Regions from separate parts of the Homo sapiens genome. Here region 1 is linked to region 2. A link means that fine-mapping ties the variant in region 2 to the expression of a gene that starts in the linked region. Tissue or cell type: tibial nerve. Region 2 holds a variant in brackets; the other region holds the start of a gene. All regions are shown on one strand. Distances are between the middles of the regions.

Evidence for each region. PIP is the estimated chance that this variant, and not a neighbour inherited with it, causes the effect.
Region 1: it holds the start of TRIM9, and the variant in region 2 is fine-mapped to the expression of TRIM9 in tibial nerve (GTEx, PIP 0.99).

Annotation. Positions count from the first base shown.
Region 1 is chr14:51,089,833-51,100,626 of GRCh38, forward strand. It overlaps TRIM9 (tripartite motif containing 9), which reads right to left and starts at 5,273. Exons shown (of 13, transcript NM_001387360.1): 1 at 4,286-5,273. The coding sequence starts at 5,107. RefSeq lists a silencer at 5,265-5,334.
Region 2 is chr14:51,017,933-51,028,726 of GRCh38, forward strand. TRIM9 (tripartite motif containing 9) reads right to left here. Exons shown (of 13, transcript NM_001387360.1): 2 at 7,333-7,428; 3 at 4,903-5,025. Among named protein-coding and RNA genes, the nearest start is that of TRIM9, 72 kb to the right of the region's middle. RefSeq lists an enhancer at 10,459-10,794. The variant T/C (reference allele first, on the strand shown) is at 6,353.

The DNA.
Region 1 (10,794 bases), 72 kb after region 2:
TTTACGCAGTAATTGTTGACTGGTGAGACATTGACTCTGTTTGACATGAATGTTTATGGTTGTGTTGAACTGAAATTAGTAAATTATAAACATTTAATTTACCTTATCAAAATCCTTTCACAATTGTAATTTTAACTCCCTTATATCTTTGTAGGTGGGAAGTACAGACAGGTGATGATACTTGCAAAAAGTTTCCTGCAAGTAAGTGGCAGCATTGGTTCTATAACCTGGATCTCCTGTTATCTAGTTCTTTCCATTATGCCTGGGTACAAAGAGGAATAACTGTCTTCTCTGTAACATTTTCCTTAATATCTGTAAAAATGTTTACATGGCACACAGAATGTTCTAATTGTACTAGAAGTAAATCAAAAGAAATGTAAAAACATGAACATATGCTGCCTGTTACATTTACCACAGGAATATATAGACTATATTGTGTTTACTGCTGACATATAGTTAACTGAATATCATTTTAGTGGCATTATATAACACATTTTGCTACATAAATATTTAATGAGATGCCACCATAAAGCTAAGCAGATATTTTTCTCCAGGATATTTTAGAATTGAAGGCATATTAACTGACAGTTTATTTTAAAATATTGTTTAAATTGCAAATTTTCATTTATAAAAACAAAGGTAAGAGAAAAATAACATTTGAGACAAGATTAAGAATGAATAGTGTTTAGAATAGAAAGGAAAAGAAAATCTTTGCTCAGTAGCATGAACACAGAATAATTGTTACAAATATGTTACTGATTCAGTGACTTCATTTTTTTATTTTGAGACAGTCTTGCATCGTCACCCAGGCTACAGTGCAGTGGTGAGATCCTGGCTCACTGCAACCTCTGCCTCCCAGGTTCAAGCAATTCTCCTGCCTCAGCCACCCAAGTAGCTGGAACTACAAGGCATGCACCACCATGCCCAGCTAATTTTTGATTTTTCAGTAGAAATGGAGTCTCAACATGCTGGTCAGGCTGGTCTTAAATCCTGGCCGCAAGAGATCTGACCGCCTCGGCCTCCCAAAGTGCTGGGATTACAGGCATAATCCAGTGCACCCAGCCCTGATTCAGTGACTATTGAAACCCCAGGAATTCAAGGATAATATCAGGATTTAGGAATGTGAACTGCTTAAAATCACAAAGTAATAGTAGTGGTTTCTATTGCCCATTTTAAAGTATCTACAAAATCACTTTTTTGGTGTTATAATTCTTTTAACAAGTACGTTGAATAAAGGAATATAGTTAAGTACTGGCACTAAATAAAAACTGCTACCAAATATTTGACTTATAAGACCATTATTATTATTATTATTATTCATGTGTTATTATTTTTCATGGAGTTTTGAAGACCAAAAATATCTGAAAAACATTTTAATCTGGCCAGTTGAAAACTAGTGAATTTCAACCAGATGTTTTTAATACCACTTTAAAAATAAACTGCAGCCATTTTATTATATCTTGAGTGTGTAAGATGATGATTTATGCCTGTGGGAAATACTTATCTGCAGGACTTGCTTTATCAGTAGAAATGACTAATATGATAGAATATGAATGACAACTTTTCAGGTCTAGTAATAACCTGTGTTGATAACTAACTGCCCAATTTTGGAAACCTAGTTAGTATAGTTCTTTGCTGTCCTATTTTTGCAGGGCATAGAAATTCTGGCCCATGGGCTTTTGTGGAGATAGAAGTACCATTAACTAAAACATAAACTATATGAGAAAACTGGCTGCTAACACATTAACTTCCTTATTAAGTAAATAAGGTGGGGGAGTAATGTTTGTTGTTCATCTAACAGATGACAAGTGAATGTTAAAATCTGTCATCCTTCTGTCTTATTTTTTTTCTTGGCAGTTTAGTAATCCTCATATTGACTGAACAAAAATTATGTGTCCTTACTGTTTTGGAAAAAATGTGCAAAAGATCAGAGAATAAATGGTCTTCTAGCCTACTTATGTCATGTTTCAAGGGTTTTAACATTCTTTTGTGGCAGGTAGATATCTAAATCTCAACCCAGGCAGCACCAGTGTCTGTCTACTCATAATTTCTATTGCCAATAAAACAAATGATTTAACATTTCAAATTGACATGGGGCTTGACAGAGATTTAAAGGTTTCTTTTGGTCTTAATAGATCAAGGATAGGCTTGTCATAAAAAAAATAATAATGTTGTGGTTTACCCATCCTAATTACCTTGTGGCTCTAAATTCTTTTTCCTGACAGAGTGATTAATTTTTTAGTTCCAAGGATACTTTGTAGGGCAATTCAACATGGACTATAATTAGCAGTTTAAAAGTGAAATCAAAATATGAATAAAAAACTAGCTGTGAACTCAAGTTTTGAAAACTTTCAAAATTAAATGTCATTTTCAAAAATTTAAATTCGACTGTTCTGAAAACAGTGGTGTGTGCCCAGTTAGGCTTCAATTTGTGCTAAATGAAATCCCCATCAGTACTAATATGATTTAATAGGTTATATGTGAGAATAGAATGACTGTAAACATGGATCACATTCAACCGGGTTAAGGAGTTGAGAAAACTTTCACTGATTGCTGAAAATTAATGACATTTTTTTCTTGCTGTAAACAAAATATCAATGTTCCAGCCTTAACTCCACAGTTGGCCACTTGCAAAAGCTACCCTTTCTAGTCTCCAAGGAATTCTGGGAGACTCTGAGCAAGGCCACAGCTGAGGCCTGGACACTATCTTCACTGCTCCATCTCATCCTTGGGTATGCAACTCAGTGATGTAAAGAAAAGCTCCTTCCAACCATCCTGAATCCCTGCCCTGCACTCCACAGCCCCAACTAAATGGATCATTTAAAAAATGAAAAGCAAATTCATGCACATCTCCTCAAGAGTTGCTCCCTTCCTTCTAAGCAGTGTGGGCATATTATAAGGATCTTCTTCCTCATGAGGCTTATTTCGTTTATGTCTGTGTGTGTACAGGGAGCAATAGATAAATACAAAAAATAACATAATTAAAATATATAGCATGCCACACAGGGATAAATACTACTGAGGAAAATAAAGCTGAGAGGGAACTAGCGGGTGTCTGGGTGGGTGGCGCTGCAAAGATGATACCTGAGCAAAGAGCTGAAGGATGCAGGTAAGTGACCCATTCGGATCTCAGGTAACTGGGGAAGAGAGCTTCAGGCTGAATGAACACCAAATGCAAAGGCCCTGGAGTAGGGAGGTGCCTGGCGTCGTTTGAGGAACAGTAAGAAGCAGTGTGGCTGGAGCAGAGGGAGTAAGTGGGAGGCAATGAGGTCGAAGGGGCCAAAATGGAAGAGGTCATGTAGGACAGGCTGAGAAGCGTGGGAAAAATTGGAGGGTTTTGAGCAGAGGAGTGGCACGACAGAATATGTTGCTAAAGCCTCTTCGTGTCTAGCCATGGTGGAAATATCATCAAAAGAGACTGGAAAGATAAATCTGGTAACAGGTGTCCCAAAGTTTGCACATATAACTACTGAAAGAGGAAAGGGCTTGAATTCCGGAGAAGTGGGTGTGTGTATAGTTGGGAGGAGAAGGTTTCCCTAGGAGATGCACCTGTCTGGCTTCCAGGCCGCGACTGCGCAAACTCCGGTCCTGACACTCTAGTCTCAGGTCCCAACTCCGGAAGGGTTCAGGCCCAAGCCTGCACGTCGCGTTGCCATGGCGACCGCTGGCTGCCCTCTCCGCTCTGTCTTTTGAGCACGTGGCACCAGGACCCCGCGTTCTCTCCAGCTCGAGAGCCAGGTCTGGCCCAGAGCCGGGCTCATCAGTATTCCGCCTGCGGCGTCTCCCCGACCCTCCGCCGTGCCTCACCAGGTCCGCCTATCCAGCAGCGACAGACTCCCGCCGTCCGCGCGACCCCACCGCCCCCATCCCAGTCCCTCCCCGAGGGTTCGCAGCCCGCCCTGCCCTCGAGCGTGCCTAGCGGCCCTGGGCACTGGCGCGGCTCTACCCAGCTATGCAGTGCTTTCCCACACACTGGCCGCGGCCACTGGCTGCAGACCCGCCGCGGAAAGGGGGCGCCCTGAGTCCCGCTCGCAGGCAGCGCGCCCCGAGAGACCCGCTCTAAGGCATCCCCGCAACAACTCTGTGGGGGCATTCAACTCCCCCGTGCGCCGGTTAAGATTCCCCCATGCCTCCTGCAATGCACCAGACCAGGGAGGTAAACATCGAAGGCACCTGCATTGCGCCCCCACTGGGATGCGCTGTGCGCAAGAGACGGGGACCGTCTGCTGCAAAACCGGATGATCGGAGACGCAGGGAGTTAGGAGTGGGTTTTCTTAGGACTCACCTTATGTAGTTTCCACATGGCCCCCAGAGCCTTGACTTCGTGGCTGGAGTGTTTGCCCTCCTCCAAGCACTGGTAGCACACGGGCATCTTGCATTGCACGCAGTACATGCTGTGGTTCTCCAGCTCGTGGTCTGTGCAGGTGGAGACCTTGCGTGGGCTCAGCCTCCGGCTCACACGACCCTGGGCCGGGGGCACCAGGCGGTGCTTGGCTAGGGGCCCCCGGGGCGGGTGGCAGCGCAGGCGGCACGGATCGCAGTAGAAGACATCGCACTGTTCGCACATGACGGTGGCTTCCTTGGGCGCCTTCTCGCAGAGCTGGCACTTGAGGGCCGCGGCTTTGCTCTGCTGGTAGCGGTCAATTACCCCTTCCAGTACGCGATTCTTGGGGAAGCCGCGGAGCCCCCGGTCATCCAGGATGAGGCTGCGGTGACACTGGGGGCAGGTGATACAGGAGTTGCGGGGCACCGGGGCCAGGGCCGGTGACAAGTGGGTGGCCGGTGGCGGCATAGCCGGGGGAAACACGCGGACGCCGTTGGGGGACTTCTGGCACGGGGTAGTGGGGGCGCTGGCGAACCCCCCGTAGGAGCCATAGCCGCTGTCCGCCTCGCTGTATAGGCTCATCTTGTCCAGGTCCAGATAGTCATAGTCGGAGACCCCGGAGCCCGCGGCCCGATGGCTCTGGGGGGATTCAGACTCTGGGGTCTGCACCAGGATGTTGCGGGCGCACGCCTGACACAAATTGTGAGAGCAGGGCAGGATGATGGGCTCCCGATAGAAGGAGCCGCACACGGGGCATTTCAACTCCTCTTCCATCTCCTCCATGGGGACCGGTCTGGGAGGAGACAGCGACGGCTGCAGCGGGTGCCTGAGCTGGCGAGGTGGCCGACGGGCCCGTCTTGTCCAGCACCCTGGCCAGCGGCGGCGGCTGTGGTGGTGGTGCCTTCCCGCGCAGCACTGGCACGGACACCCAGAGAGGCGCTAGCTCTGTGAGCCGCAGCCGCGTAGCCGCCGCGCCGCGCGCCAGCCCGGACCGCCCCTACCTGCCCTCCTAGTCCCGCCCCGGCCCATGAGCAGCGGCCCATTGGGCGGGGGGCAAGAGATCGAAGCTCTCATTGGCCACCAGACCCGTCCGTCTCCTCGTCTCCGCAGGCCACAGGGGGTTCGGTAGAGTCTGAGGATAGGGCAGTCTTCGCTCGCGGCTGCAAGATCTCTGAAGGGGGCCGGCGTGCGGAGGCTAGGGGACCGGGAAGGAGGAGTTAGGCGGGATGATTCATCCTCGCCCGGCTTACTTCCGACCTCCGGTGCAGTCTCCCAGGAGCTGGGGGCGTGAGAAACCCCTCCCCGCAGCGAGTGGGCTGCCGGAGGGGGCTGGGGCTTCTCGCCAGCGTTTGCGTTTGGCTCCCAGCTCTGAGCTCCGCGCCCACCTACCGCGGGCGAGTGCTGCGCAGCACGGAGGACGCCCCTTCTCTTCCGCTGCTGGCAGCCTTCGCAGGCGTCTCACCCGGGCCTAGGCTTCTGCACGGCAGTGGGGCTTTTCTCCTTCTCCGTGAATCCGCTGACGCCGTGCCCTGGAGCTCCCCCATCCCGGGAGTCTGACGGCGCTGGCGCAAGCCCTGGCGACACTCTTGGCTTCTTTCATCCTGCGTCCCTCGTTTCCTAAAGAGCATGTATAAAGTCGATTTCCTAGTGTCGACATGAGATTCAACTGGGTAACCGATGGAAATGGTCAGCATTAGTCAGAATCTATGACCCCTTCGTTTCATGCTTTAAATTATAGCTCGGCCCAGAGGCCTCAGTGCCGTGGTGTGAACGTGCTTCCTTCCACGGATCCTTCTTCCTCCTCGCGGCCTCCCAAAGCACCTGGCTGAGCTTTTTCGAGGCCCGCTGGGCCTTTGGTTCGGTTGAGGCAAGAACAGTTTGTCTATTTCTGAGTGCCCGTAGTTTAGTAAAGCTCTGTAAATGAATCACTGTGTGACTGCGGAGTCTCAGTGTTTCACTCCAAACAGCATTATTCAACCCCACGTGCCCTGGGCATCTGCCATAGCTTACAGCATCGTGTGCCTTTCTGTTTCTTCCAACGAGGGGCATGGTGAGGCGGTGATTCTAGTGTTAGTCCCTGTACAAGGAGGGAGGGAGGGAGGGAAGAAGGGAAAGAGGGAGAGAGGGAGGAAGGAAGGGGGGGGGAAAGGAAAGGCGGAAGGAAGGGAAGAAAGGGAGGGAGGAAGAAGAAAAGGAAAGGAAAATCTTTGAGTCAAGTGACATTCTGAGGTAGTAACATTTGAAATAGTACATAGCCGGCTTTTGCTGAATGATTCATGAAGTAAAGGACAAAAACTCTTTGCAAGTTCTAGAAATATTCCAATTTTCCACCTTCCAGACAGGAGATAACTTGATTATATGCAGCTATGTTGATAATTTAAAAGTACTTTATTGTCCAGAAAAAAAATGGACATTTTATTACACTGCCCTTGTAGAAATTGTCCAATAAACTAGGTTATCTTTTCAACATCTTTAGTTGCAGTGAGAACAGTAGTTGATCATTGTGTGGGGGAATAAAGTCCCCATTGTTATTTAAAGCCATGTTAATCATAAATGTGACGTGATTTATTTTTAAGCTGGCTTTCAACTAGTTGAGACCAGAGCATCCAAAGGTATATGCACTCTGTTTACAGACATAGATAAAATTTCTTCAGGTATGGTTGGGACATTAGCTGCACTTGCAGGATACACTTAATTTATAGGTCCCAAGAGAAATTACTAATAATTATATTCAATATAGTATTAATTGAATTGTAATGAAAGTTAATTATTGAGAAAATATTAGAAAGGAGTGTCCTTTTATGGCTTTTGTATGCATTTGACCACAAGTCACAATATCTTGGACCAGCAAGGTGAGCAGCTGTTACACTTTGTATGAGTTTGAACTCTGCTTATAATAGTATATCATCTAAGAGATCTTATTAGCAGAAAGTTTATGCTTAGTTCAAAGTAAAGAAGAATTTTAGAGGATGTCTCATGGTGTAATGCAGTGTTGGGTTCGCAAAAAGAACAACACAGGTTTATAATATAGTCAATATAGAAAGATTTGGTCTATTATGAAGTCGCTTGAGATGATTTCATTGTTAGATCTGTTTGTTTAGGAATTAGCTAAATCAGTCAATCCTAGGAGAGCTCTTAAAATGACTCATTTGTTGAGAGTTCACCCTGTTCCAAACAGGGGATTTATTTATTTGTATACATTACTTGGTTAAATCCCTGTAATTACAAGAAGAGGTAGGCACAATTATTCCCATTTTACAGATAAATAAACTGAAGATAAGCAAAGACACTTAAGTACTCAAGGTCAAATATGGTGAGGCTGGGATTGGAACCCGGACACATATAAGTTTGTTCCTTTGTTCATTCATTCATTCATTCATTCATTCAACAAGTGCTGAGTTCTACTCTCTTCAAGCTCTGAATGTGATAAGTACCCAAAATGTTCTTTGTTAACTTCTATGATATTCTGCTCACCTTCTCTGAAAGTTTACTTTTTTTTTCCTTTTTTTTTTTTGAGACTGGAGTCTTGCTGTGTTCCCCAGGCTGGAGTGCAGTGGCACAATCTTGGCCCACTGCAACCTCCACCTCCCAGGTTTAAGTGTTTCTCGTGCCTCAGCCTCCTGAGTAGTTGGGACTACAGGTGTGCACCACCATGCCTGGCTAATTTTTACATTTTTTTTTTTTAGTAGAGACAGGGTTTCACTATGTTGGCCAGACTGGTCTCAAACTCCTGACCTCAAGTGATCCACCTGCCTCAGCCTCCCGAAGTGCTGGGATTACACGCATGAGCCAGCGCTCCCAGCCAAAAGTTTACTATTTTTCTTTGAATCCATTTCTTTAAAATATTCTTGAAGGCCTTTGAAGATTTTCCCCTCATGTTGCACTGTTTGGCCATAATGTGCTTTATAGCCCCCCAATGACTTATGTTTAAAAGGGAATAAAAATTGAAATGTAATTGGTAATATTATAGAAATATTATACTATTGAGGGGATATCTTCTGTCTTCCAGCTGGTGATCAGTCCATGCCCTGAAGCACAAGGATTGATAGCCCTGTAATTTCATCATTCCTGGGATGATTGCAGATGTTCTCTTTTGTGTAAAGTGCCTAATTATCCTTTGAAACTTACTATTCACCCAAATTATGTTCTTTAGCAATGAGAGCAATTACATTTAAAGTGCAACAACAGCTTTTGCATTTTTAAAAAAAGATAAATGTTTTTCTTTTTTTGATAAATGTTTTTCAATGAAAAATTGAGTTGCTTTCCTATTTGCTTTTGACTACAATGCTTGATTATTAACAAAACAGTCTCTGTGAGTCTAAAGAATGAACACAGAGAAGAAAGGTTTTTCTTTCCACATTCTCTCCTAGAGTAGTCTATCCTTAGTTGTGGGAGGGGGGTGGAAATCAGTGAAAGGAGCTGATCTTAGGCTCTAACATTTTAAGATTATCTGACATGTATATAAAAATATTTTATTAAGGTATTTGAATAAGGGTCTTGCTGCATGTGGTTTGTAAAAGTACATCACTTGAAAAGTGATAAATGTGATGTTTCTATTCTCAATAGAAATTCTGAAGAAACTTCTTTTATGGAATAATTTACCCCATTTAGTCTACTAATATTCAATTTTATACTTATAATTTTGTACTATTCTTTAATAACATTTATTGTTGATATCCTTTGGTAATTTAAATTATTTGATTATTATAGTGAATTATGAGCTTTTTCCCATTTAGTACTACTGGAAGATGGCCATATTCAAATTCTGTAGTATTTCTTATTGTAAGTAATATATTACTGATGCTTTGGGAAGGGTAGACTGGAGAATCGGAGAAAATGAAGATTTAATGAATCCTATATGGAGGTAAGAGAGCTAGAGGATAAATCCAGAAGACCTAACTTGTGAATAATAGGAATCTCAGAATGAGGAAATAACACAGGTGGAGGGAAAACCATAGTTGGAAAACATTTCTCTGAACCAAAAAAATATATAAAATTACAGATTGAAAGGATTTTAGAATTATAGATGACATTAATGAAAAAAGACCCAGTTATATACAGACACAATTCTTAACTCAGAAGAAAAAAAAAAGATCATTTTACAAGCTCCCAGAAAGAAAGAACAACTTAATTGTAAAGAAAAAAGAATCAGATTGGCATTGGACTGCTTTCTACAACCTTGCAGGTGAAAATAATGTGAAACAAATTCTACAGCCTACTAAAACTGAAAGAAGTCACCCTGTCATAGTCCGTTTTTGCTGCTATAACAGAATACCACAGACTGGATAATTTATAAGAAACAGAAATATATTGGCTCATGGTTCTGGAGGCTGGGAAGGCCCAAATCAAGACACTGGCATCTGGTGAGGGCCTTCTTGTTGCATCATCCCATGGTGGAAGGGCAGAGAGAGGGCAAGATAGAGGGCAAGAGGGAGCTGAACTTCTCCTTTTATAAGAAACCCACTCCCGCGATAAGAAACCTATTCCCATGGTAATGGCATTAATCCATCCATGAAGGTGGTGCCCCTGTGACCTAAACACTTCTTAAAGGTCCCAACTCCTGACACCTTCTCACTGGGGATCAAGTTTCTAACACATGAACTTTCGGGGACGCAGTCAAACCATAGCACAGCTTAAATATTTTATAGCCTGCCAAAAGATCATTTGCTTGTCTGGTCAAAGAAGAATATTTGCAAGAATTTAAAGAATAGAGCATTCACACATTCCATCTGAGAAAAATACTTAAGAAGACTTTTAAATAACAAATAAATCTTAACAGAGTCCCCAGAATGGGTTAGGAGCGAGTGGGGACCTGAAAGCATCCTAAGGACTTGATACTGGGGAGAAAGAAGAAATGAGAAAGGAAAGGTGGGAAATAAAATGTTTCTGTTGGAGGGATTATTTGGTATACTTTTTTCTTACATAATATTAAAACATTACATGTATTATTAGGCCTGGGAAAGGAATATAACTATTTATTCCGTGGAAAGTAAAATAGAACTTGCAAATTAACACACATGGGGAAAGTATTCTGTGAAACTCTATGACGACGATTTTTAAAACATAAAGGAAAGGGATACTTTCTGACAAAAATATATTAATTGAATCAATCCCTCAAAGTAGAAAGATTGAGTAGACCAACCTCCATAAAAGGGATTTGAAAGATAATTTCAGATTTGTCATTAATAAGGAGAGGATGGTTACACCGATGAGTTCTAGTTAAATTTTTTAAAATAAGCAACTTTAATGGTATTGAAATAATCAAAACTAAAGAAAAATATGGACTATTTCCCAGTCTATGAAGCCATCATAACTTTAATAACAAAACATGATTATATAGTTAATAGAGAACACAATAAATAAAAAACTATGGCCCAAAAACTAAGTGTTAGATGTAAAAGTGCTAAATAGGATGTCAGCAAATAGATTTCAGATTTGTATAACAAGATTAACAAACTATGACCAAGTAG
Region 2 (10,794 bases):
TGTGGTGGGAAGCAGAAGACTGCAAAATATGCCAAATGAAACTCTGAAAGGAATTCATCATTCATGATGGGCTTGTAATCAATCATAATTGTGGTTAAATAATTAGAATTGGCTTCTACAGACTTCTGCTGAGGGCAGTTGAAAGCTTCAAGTTGTTCCAGTGTGCCTAATTTTTCCAAATGTCTTCATTGTAATGGAATAACTGAGTTCTTTGTCATTAATTTTACAGGGATTGAGGTGGTTCTTGGCTTGAATTAGTTGCTTTTTTTTTCTAGTAATGACTGTAGCCAGTCAAATAGTATCTAATTATTTTTAATTTTTTTGTGAGCTGGGATGGCCTGCCTGCCTGCCTGCCTTCCTTCCTTCCTTCCCTCCTCCCTCCCTTTTTTCTTTCCTTCTTTCCTTCCTTCTTTCTATCCTTCCTCCCTCCCCCCTTTCTTTCTTTCTTTCCTCTCTCTCATCTGAATCAAAGGATTATTTGCCTGTCATAAAACGATGGCAAAATAGCTGCAGTAAGCAGTTCATATGCCAATAATATCCGTAACGTAAATTTGTGTTCTTAATACGTGATATAATTAATTTTTGGCAAACATAATGGGATCATAACAGGCAATACATGGTAAATAATAACAAAGATAATGGTGAAAAGAATGATAATTATTCTAACAAAACTCATAGATTACACTAGGCCTCAAAATCAAGCATTCTACAGATAGCTACAATGGGCACACGGAGGCCCTCAGTAAATATTAATATGAAGACTGCGCAACATGGTAAGCTTTCTCATCAGCCCTCAGCATCCTCGCTGAGTAATTTTGTTGGTATGTTAAATTTACCAACCACACATGGAAACTGAAAGCTAGAATTTTTCCCCAGAATCATTTGGAATAACTGTAACATTTTTTTTCTTTCAGATTATCTTAGAGTTCAAAGGTAATCAAGAAAATACATATCGCCTCTTACTATTCAATGTGTGAATTCATTCTAAAATATTAGAGAGAACACATTTAAGACAATTTCAGGGTTATGTCAAATTGTGAATGTTACATAAACAACAAATAATTTTCAGATATGTCTTTGGGCTTATCAAGAGAAAGTGGCATATGTAAAGTTTCTGAAGAAAGCATAGATTTCATTAATGGCACAATTTAGTTTAAGTGTTGTCATAAATTCCCTGTGAGGAGCACAGATAGGAAATGTAGGCTTTCTTCAGCTAAAGCAGACCTGGGAAGGATGTTAACACAATGGACAGACCAAGACAAGAAACCTGGAGGTCCAGTGTGCTCTGCTCACTGTTGGAATACTGCCCAAGTAGTTCCAAATATGAGTTAGTAATATTTTTATTGGAAGCTCAAAAACACTTCTTCCCTCAGTAGCTTTCTGACATTCGCATTAGTTCACCACATTCTGAAAATAGATATTTGGCTCCCAGCATCTTATCAAACCACAGAGTAGTATTAACTATAATTTACATTTCAAACAGTTTCCCTCAAACATGTCCACATCTGCATATGTCTCCAAAGCTTTTTTGCTTTTTTTTAGCTCATCAAACTTTGTGAACTATTTTATACAATGATCAATTATGAACTCATGCCACTAAAGAATCTCCCAGGTTCATGGATAATAACACCAGTGTATGAGCTAATTCTAGGCTATGAATTATGGTATCATAGAAAACAAGCCCCTGGAAACTCTTCTTCAGGGTGTTGAATGAAACCATATTTCCAGTCATTCTCTCTCAATCACAACAATAACAGTTAATATACATTAAAGATTGTGCTAAGTGCTTTGCAATGCCCTATGAGGTACCACTTCCAGCCTTATTTTACACACAGATGAAATAAACTTTTGAGCCACAGACTTGCTCAAGATGAGAAACCTAGTAAGTGAGAAAGTGTGTCCTCTCACCCCAGCCTCTATGACACAGAACCTGGGCTCTTTACCACTCAGTTCCATCTTGCCTCAGAACCAGAACTATTAAATCTGTTCAAGCAATCAGTGCTTTCAGAGAGGGACATGAGTAGATTATAAAGACTGCGTAAGTACACACTCACTTTCCAGCATTCCTAGTTTTTTGGATTGCTCAAGGAGAGAGAGTTGCCCGAAAAATACACACACAACTCCTCTCTTTGTCAGCAAAAAGCAGGCCCTCAGAGAACTCAGCCAAAGGGAAGCGGAAGAACATAAGATTACCCCTGCAGGACAGTGAGTGATGGGTTAGCCAACAAAGATAGAAAGAAGTACTGTGCTTGGCAAGTGATGTCTATAAAAGGCCAGTCTTTTCTCACAAATCTGAGTAGCAACAAGAGTGACAAGAAAGGGAAAAGGCAGGGGGAGAGGAGAGCGAGCGAGCCGTGGAGGCCTGTATCAGTGGTCATGACAGTGTGAGTGGCACTGGTGGCTGTTTTTGGAAGCAATGACAGATATAATCAGCTGAAAACAGCAGAAAAACAAATCATTCGAGATAGAAGACAGAACAGCTTTGCTGCTATGGGGGACAGCCAGCCACCTGTCTCTGGTTTCTGCAGTCCTTTGAGGTCTGGGCAGGAAACTCCAGCCTGGGCAGGGTGGAATGAGGGCAGGCAGCTGCCTCTGCTCAGTGGCCCCCAAATGCATCCGCATTCCCTGCTGGGGCAGCCTAGCCAGTACAGATGGACCATCAGAGGAGGGAAGAGGACATAGTCACGCGATGTGGCATCCCAGCGATGCGTGAAAGCCATTCCTGGGCAATGACATCTGCAGCCACAGCACAGTCCTTAACTGATTTTCACACAGTCCTGTTCTGCAGAGGCAACACTAAGCAGGAGGGCAACGGGGCTTCTCATGCCTTCTGCCATTCTTTGATAGGGATAAATGATGCATTCTCAATCATCAAAAAATTCCTCCTCCAGATTGCTGCCTTTATGTCTCTCCCATATAGAAAGGCTGGAGTTGCCCTACCATCACCATGTGACTGTCGCAAACTGTTCACCATGTTCTGTTAAAAAGTGCCAGGAAGTGTTCGCAATGTTTCAAAAGAGATATTTCCATTAAGAAGAAAGTTAAAATGTTATGGCTAGGTACTTAAATAGTTGTTCCACTATTTAGCGGGGAAAACTGTTCAGTTTCATTTCCCAAAGACATTTGTGGTTTTATTTTATACAGTTCTATGTGATTCGAATGATATTTTGAGGACTGCTATAACAATAAAAGTTTTGGGTTTCTGAAGGGTGCTCAGATTGAAGGGCTATAGTGACAGTTTTTTAGCAATGTTAGGCCAGGTGCTGGATACAGAAAACATCCCTTGGTCCTCAGGCCTAACCAGATGGAACAAGACCACAGTGCACATGTGCTAATCACCCACTTCTTCCCTGACAGCTTTGCCGATTCCTGCAGGTAGGAATGTAAATGGTCATTAACACACACTTCCTACAATTTGGACTGCTCAGGTGCCAGCTCTTGAGGTACTCTGTGACCGTTTTAACTGCAAGTAATTTTGCCCTGTCAAACTTCTATGACATTGGGCACCTCTCTCCTGGAAGCCCACTCTGTACCTATGTTGGAGTCAGCTGTGGGTATAGCTTATCTCTTCCATTGAACTGTAAACTCCATAAGGGCAGAAGTCCTTCTGAACCACCTTCATGTCCCTGCCTCCTCCTGCTCCCCTGCCAGCACTATGAGCGTAAGACCAGACCTCATTTCTCCCTTCATCCTAATGCCATATCAACACTGCACACCACATACCCACCACCCACCAGTAGCCACTCTGAAGCCTGCTGGCCACATGTGTGGGCCTCAGCTGATTGTCTACTGCTGGACCCCTTCTGGTTTGCTCTTCCCATGCATTCATCCTTCCTCTCACATCTTGTTGCCCTGCACCAATGGGGTGATAGATGGAATATCAGATGTCTCCTGGAGGACCAGTCCTGCCAATAGGGTCCCATTCTAATAGCCAGTTGATTCCACCATGTCATGACAAAATTCTTTACAGCTTCCAACTGTAAAGTTCACTTGAGAAGTTAAGACAAATCATGCTCATTTTCTAGAAAGTACAGATTCTATTTTTCAATTCAAAAACACATTTTTTTGCCTGTGTATGGCCACCCTATCCAAAATTTCCACCCCTATCCCCAGTACTCACCATCCTCTTTTCCTACTTTTAGAATTTTTCTTAGCACTTTTTACTAATATACTCCATATTTTACTTACTTATTGCTATGGTTTGAATATCTCTTCCAAAACCCATGTTGAAATGTAATTGCCATTATAAAAGTATTAAGAGGTGGAGCCTTTAAGGAGTGATTAGGACATGAGGCCCCTGCCTTCATGAATGGACGAATGCTATTATCTTGGGAGTGGGTTAATTATCATGGGAGTGGGCTCCCAATAAAAGGTTGAAGTTTGGCTCTTATCCTCTCATTTCCCATGCTCGCCTGTCCTTCTGCCTTCTGCCATGGGATGATGCAGCATGAAGGCCCCACCAGAAGCCAACACCATGCTTTTGGACTTCCCAGTCTTCAGAACCATGAGCTAAATATAATTCTATTATTTATAATCACCCAGTCTGTGGGATTCCGCTATATCAACATAAAATGGAGGAAGACACTTATCTTGTTTATTATTTGTCCCTCTTGATAGAATATAAGTCCCATGAAGGCAAGAATTTTGATTTCTTTATTATTCCTATGTCCATTGCAGTTCCTGGCTGAGAAAAGTCACCCAACAAACATTATTTGGGTAAATGAAGGAGCAGGTAGTGAATGAAGGGAGGTGTCTGTTCCTTTCTGGCCAGACCACTGGCTACCCAAGGCTGTGGGCATCCTCTCCTCCTGTCCATGGGAAGGAATTCTCCCAGCCTGTCCATCATGCCCCTCGGGAGCCTGGCTTGTTGGCTTTCTGCTCTTCCCATGATGCAGCACTCACCTTCAGCTTGTGCTCATGCTCCTTGTTGACGCGGGCCAGCAGCTGGGCTTTTCTTCTGTTGAGGGCATCGATGAGGGCATCACATTGGGCCACCAGACAGGCTTCAAACTCCACACTGTTCTCCTGTGTAACAGAGCACATTTCTCAACTGCAAGCTGCTGGGTGCCTCAGGCTGCCAGAGAAAACAGAGCTCCCCCATCCTGCTGAAGGGAATGAAAAGGAACTCTGTCCACAATGCACATTTGGTAATTTTAAAAAAATAACTGGATAAACTTTATTCTACAGTGGTCATGTTTTGCTTTAAATTTAGATTAAAAGGGATAAATATTTATCACTTAAATTTATCAAAAGGAAATCATCTCCACAATTTGAATTCTATTAAGCAAAACAAAGCTTTAGTTCATAGAGTTGTTTATGAATGTTTTTGAGGGCCACATATGTTCAGCTATGTATGGTGGAAGCTGGCATTCAAAAAGGCAATGAGGAGGGAGTGGGGCATTGCTGAGGCACGAGAAATCATTAAATTCAAAGGAATAAAGAAGAAAAAGGATGGCACTGGTCTTCAATATTAACAATAATCCAATGAGAACAGAAGTTTATAAGAATAATGGGTAAAAGTACTTGCCCCTTTCATTAAGGAAAGCAAATAGTAGGCAGAAAAAAACAATCAATGTGTGTAACAGGGATCACCCTGCCATAAAAATCAGATATGACCCAACACCTTGCAGGGGAAAGGCAACTTCATACTAAGTGAATTATAGCTTCCCTGTGATGTTTAAATTAAATGCTGGATATAACCTTTTTATTTGATTTAAATCTGTACATGCCATAGACATTTATTTTAAGCAATTCTTTCAATGAGTTATATGCAGTTATTAAGGATAAGCTTTTCAATGAGTAATATATGCAATTTTGCATATATATGCATAATCTGAAAAAAAGTAATTTACAGTAAACGAAAGCTAAATACTCACATATACGTTAGTAATACTTAAAAAACACCACCCAGTTGAGTAAACTGTAAACTTTTGGGGCTGGCAAGAAAGGCACAATTTAAATTTATTTAAGGCACAAATTTAAATTTATTACCAAAGTCATAAAGAACTGTGTCTTTTTATATAATAATCAACTGGTAGGCATTTAGTAATTGTTTTCAAATGCAAGGTCTTCGTATAAGGAATGCATTAGTAATTGCTTGAGCAATGCTAAATTTTGGCTTTCACGGCAATTGCTTTTGAACTCTCAGAGAAGGCCTTTGGAAAACATCATTTAAGAGCTCTCTATGCCACATGCAGGGTAATATTGGAGGGTGGGGTGAGGGGAAACCTTCTCCTTGTAAGCTCTGTCACTGATTTAGAGCAGAAAGAAAGCTTTGCTCTGATGAAGAGGCCCGGGCAGAGGCAAGCCTGGGGCTGCACATTTTATGCCAGCAGAGTAAAGAAAGAACTGA[T/C]TGATAAACTCCATTGCTTTGGAAAACAGAAGGAAGTATACAAAACTGCTAGGCTGTTAGGGAATCAAAAGTTTAACATGGGCATGTGTGCCAAAAAAAAAGGCAAAGAAATCAGTGTGTAATTCTTTGAAAGGGTGGCTTACATTTAAAAATCCATTTCTACCTTGACATGGTTAAATATGAACTTAGGCAATTTACTGGAGGCCAGAACTAAGGTTATTTCTGTGAGGCAAACCTCAAAACATAAGAATGCTAAACAGTACAGAAGGTCATTATTTTACTGTCTTATACAGTTTATGGTTTTTCTCCTTCAGCTATAGTGGAGAATTTATGAGCTCTTAAATGCTGGTTGAATTGCTGGTCATTGTGTCTAGATAAAGCAATCTGAAATTATAGTTGCCAGGGGATCATGGTTGAAAAATATTTAAATGTCTAAGCAGAGGAGAAGCATTATTGTGGGTCAGGGAGGAAGAAAAGAAGAAAGAAAGGCAGAAAGGGAGGAAGAAAAAAGAGGAAGAAGGAACAAGGGAGGAATGAAAAAGAAAAAAAGGAAGGCAGGAAGGAAATGAAGGAAGAAAAGAAGAGAAAACTGTGGCCTGTTACCATTAAATGATACAATTATTACAAGGTGTTTTGGAAACCTACAAGGTTTTACAAGCTCAACAATAAGGACCCTGAGTTTACAAAAAAATAGGCCTCTTTCTGAATATTCAGTAGTAGAGAATTAGGACCTCAGTGTGGAAGACAGGAACCAGTTGGAAAATCAGGCTGTGTTTCCGGCTTGTTGGCAAAAAGTAACTACCTCAAGAAGGGGTATGTTTGAAGTTGATCTCTATGTGTTTGTATGTAAAGAACAACAACAACCACAAAATAGGAATTTTCCCACGACACATAAAAATAAAAGAGGAGAAGGAAACTCTCCCGCCACACAGTTACGTATTAACCGGCGGGTTTCCTTGCGTCCCAGGTAACACCCATACCTGGATCTGCTGGACCATGTTGCGCAGCTGTACCAGAAACTCCTTGGCTTCTTTGGCCCTGTCTGACAGTCCGTTCAGCGCCTGGGAGAGCTGGCTCTGCAAAGACAAAGAAGGAAGCCATGGAGCTGTAATCACAGGATACACCAACAAGGCCAGCGAGACTCAAAACTGAAGAGTCATCAACCTCCTCAGATTCCTCTTGTCTGAGGTTGGACCTTTTTGCTGGCATTTGTACAGGTAGATTCTGGTGTCGAAACTCCCTGTGCTCCTGAGTAGTTTCTCCTTGGAAGCAGTGAACACTTCTGGCCACAGCAGTCAAAGGCCCTCACCAGCTGATATCAACCTAGAATTTCTTCATCTCCTCCTTCATTGATTAATTAAACAATCATTTATTGAATACATATTTGCTAAGGACTAAAAAAGCAAAACAAAATAGTGAGTCAGATGATCTAATTCTTATCAACGTTACTTAGCACAAAGGGCTATTGGTCTGGGTAGGGCAGAAAGAATAGAGTAAAGAACAGGATGAAGGAAGGGGTAGGTACTGGTGTGATCCTCTGGGGCCACTTAAATATAATCACAAATTCAATGGGCAGGATGACATTCCACTCCTGCCTCATCCGTGTCCTCTTCCTTCTCCCAAGTACAGCCCTGCTGCCCTAGCACATTTGTGTCCTCTCCTCACTAGCCTCCGACACCAAGGCTTACTCTCTTTCTTTCTTCCCACACCACCCCATCCATACGAGGAGGCAGTTCTGCTGGGTTGGCAAGGTGTCCAGGTAGGTACTTGCTCTTCCAGCCTCCTCGTCCGCTGGGGAGGCCGTGGTACACAATCCTGACGGACGACACCTAAGTGGAAGTCTGCTGGGGACTGGAGGGGTCTGAGAAAGCTTTTGCTTTTCTGCTGATACGGAACCACTGTGATTGATGCAGCCTCTCCACTGTGGTTCCTGACTTTAGGATGGATGTGATGTCTTCCGGCTCACATGAGGAGAAGGCCAATAGGGTATGGGTGGAGGGATGGGAGGGGAAGGAGCTCGGTTCTGATGGCATCTTTGAGCAGCTGAGTCAACACCTGAAACCTTCACCACTAGCTTTCTTGTTATGTGATAAAAATTAACTCCTATTCAAGTCACTGTTCTGGAGTTTTCTATTGCTAGCAGGAATTTATATCAAGTATCACTGTACTTGATACAAATTCCTTCCCCTCCTAGCAGTCTGGGTATACCCTTCCGTACCTCAGGTACAGAGACAGACTCCCTTTCCTGCACTGTCTTCTTTTCAAATTAAAGCCTATTCTCCTTGCCAACACAATGATTCATCTACCCTTTCCTTTCTGTAAAAGGGCAGAACCTTAAAATTATATCTCTTGGTGCTGTGAATGCTTTTCTCTTATATTTGTCTTTTAAATACAAAGTTGGGCACTGACTCTCTAAAAATATGCACACCAAATGCTTGGTTGAGGCAATGTGGGATGGTAGAAAGAATATAGGTTTGAAAGGGTGCAGATTCTCGCTCTATCCCCTATAAGTGTGACCTTGAGAAAGTTACCTTTGTCTGAATTACTCCAATGGAAAAGGTGGGAAGAACAGTAATACTTTGTAGTTGGGTTATTGTGAGGGTTGAATGCATTAATCAATGTGAAAGCTTCTGCTAGTTAAGGGAACAATTCTGAATTCTGAAATGCTGCCAGTTACTGGCTGTTCAACCCTTTATACATTGTTTTACCTCATCCATAAAATCAGAGGAAGAATACTATTCTTGGGTTTTGTGGGCATTGCATAAGATACTATATCTAAAGCCCAGAACCCTATTACCCTACTGGTGCACAGTGCATGATGCGTGCTTAATAAATGCTGGCTGTTAACTTTTTTTTTTTTTTTTTTTTTTTTTTTTTGAGACAGAGTCTCACTCTCTCACCCAGGCTGAAGTGCAATGGTGTGATCTTGGCTCACTGCAATCTCTGCCTCCCAGGTTCAAGCGATTCTCCTGCCTCAGCCTCCCGAATAGCTGGGATTACAGCCGTGCACCACCACACCGAGTGAACTTTTGTATTTTTAGTAGAGATGGGGTTTCTCCATGTTGGCCAGGCTGGTCTCAAACTCCTGACCTCAGGTGATCCACCCACCTCGACCTCCCAAAGTGCTGGGATTACAGGTGTGAGCCACCGTGCCCAACCAGCTGTTAACTCTTATTTGTTTTCTTCATTCTTGCTCACACAAACACCTGCTGACTGGAGGGATTCGCAGGACAGATTCCTGGAACAGGGTCTGTTGGAGAACATTTTCGATCACCTGTACTTTGCTCTATGTATTTAGGCTCCAAGAGGCAAGACCAACACAACTGAGTAAGATAAAGCTCAAAGTGAGCCTACAGTTGCAAAATTCTTTATGATTGGGTCTCAGCTACAATATTATTTGGAGTAAAAGTTTCTCCTCAATAACTATTAATATTTCCAGGAGCCCAAGGGATAAAGGAGGGAAAAACGGTCTCATTTGGAAGAGCAGGCAATAATATGAGAGGCATATTTTAAAGAAGAAATTTTTTTTCATTGTTACTTTAGAACTCATATCTTTTTTTTTTCCTGAATGAGTAAAAGTTTGCTGGACTACCATAGTTTTCTTCCTCTTTTTATTATAACCTATGTTTAGTAACCACACTTAGATGTTTCAGTACAGAAGTAAAATTGATTTGGTTACACAGAAGTGAAGCTGCCTGGTGTCTTGTATTCCAACCTTGCAATTAATTGTGTCTGTATAAGACAGACTTGATACCCATAGATTTTTTGACCAGTTGCTGCTGTATACTTAGAAATACAATCATTCCTAGTAGTAGACAAAGAGTTTTGGCCCCATCTAGTCCCAGGATTTTATATGACAAAGCAGTAAGTGAACTGCAAAAATCAATTTATTTCCAATTTCCTCTTTGTGTTTATGGTCCGTCCCAAGAATGCCTTCTACCTGGCTGATGATTGTTCTGGTATTTGATAAAAAATTGCATTATAAGATAAAGATCTAGAAATCATTCTCTTAAGCTTTGTCCACTTGTAGAAATTGAGGAGACAATGAAAAATCCTGGAAAACTATCACTAGAAAGTGCTCTTATTGTAAGGATTTATATGCACATTGTTTTTATAGGTTGGTATTTTAATCACATTTATAAGCTCCATCTGATGTAGAAGAACATTGTTATTGACTGATTTTGTTTCCCAGATGCATTTAAATTCCTACTCTGTGCTAACAAAGATGTTCTGCATTCAGGACCACAGAGCAGTGCTGGAAATTTATGACCAGAACAATGAAGATGCAAATATGTAGTATGTGTTTTCATCACGGCATCTTTGGTGGTACAAGCAGTCATTTAAGGGAGAAAGGTACGTTCTAAAGCTGTTTATAATGCCTAAGCAGTGACATTCGGATTTCTTGGATATTTGTTTTCTAGGTTACTGAAAAGGTGTCACGA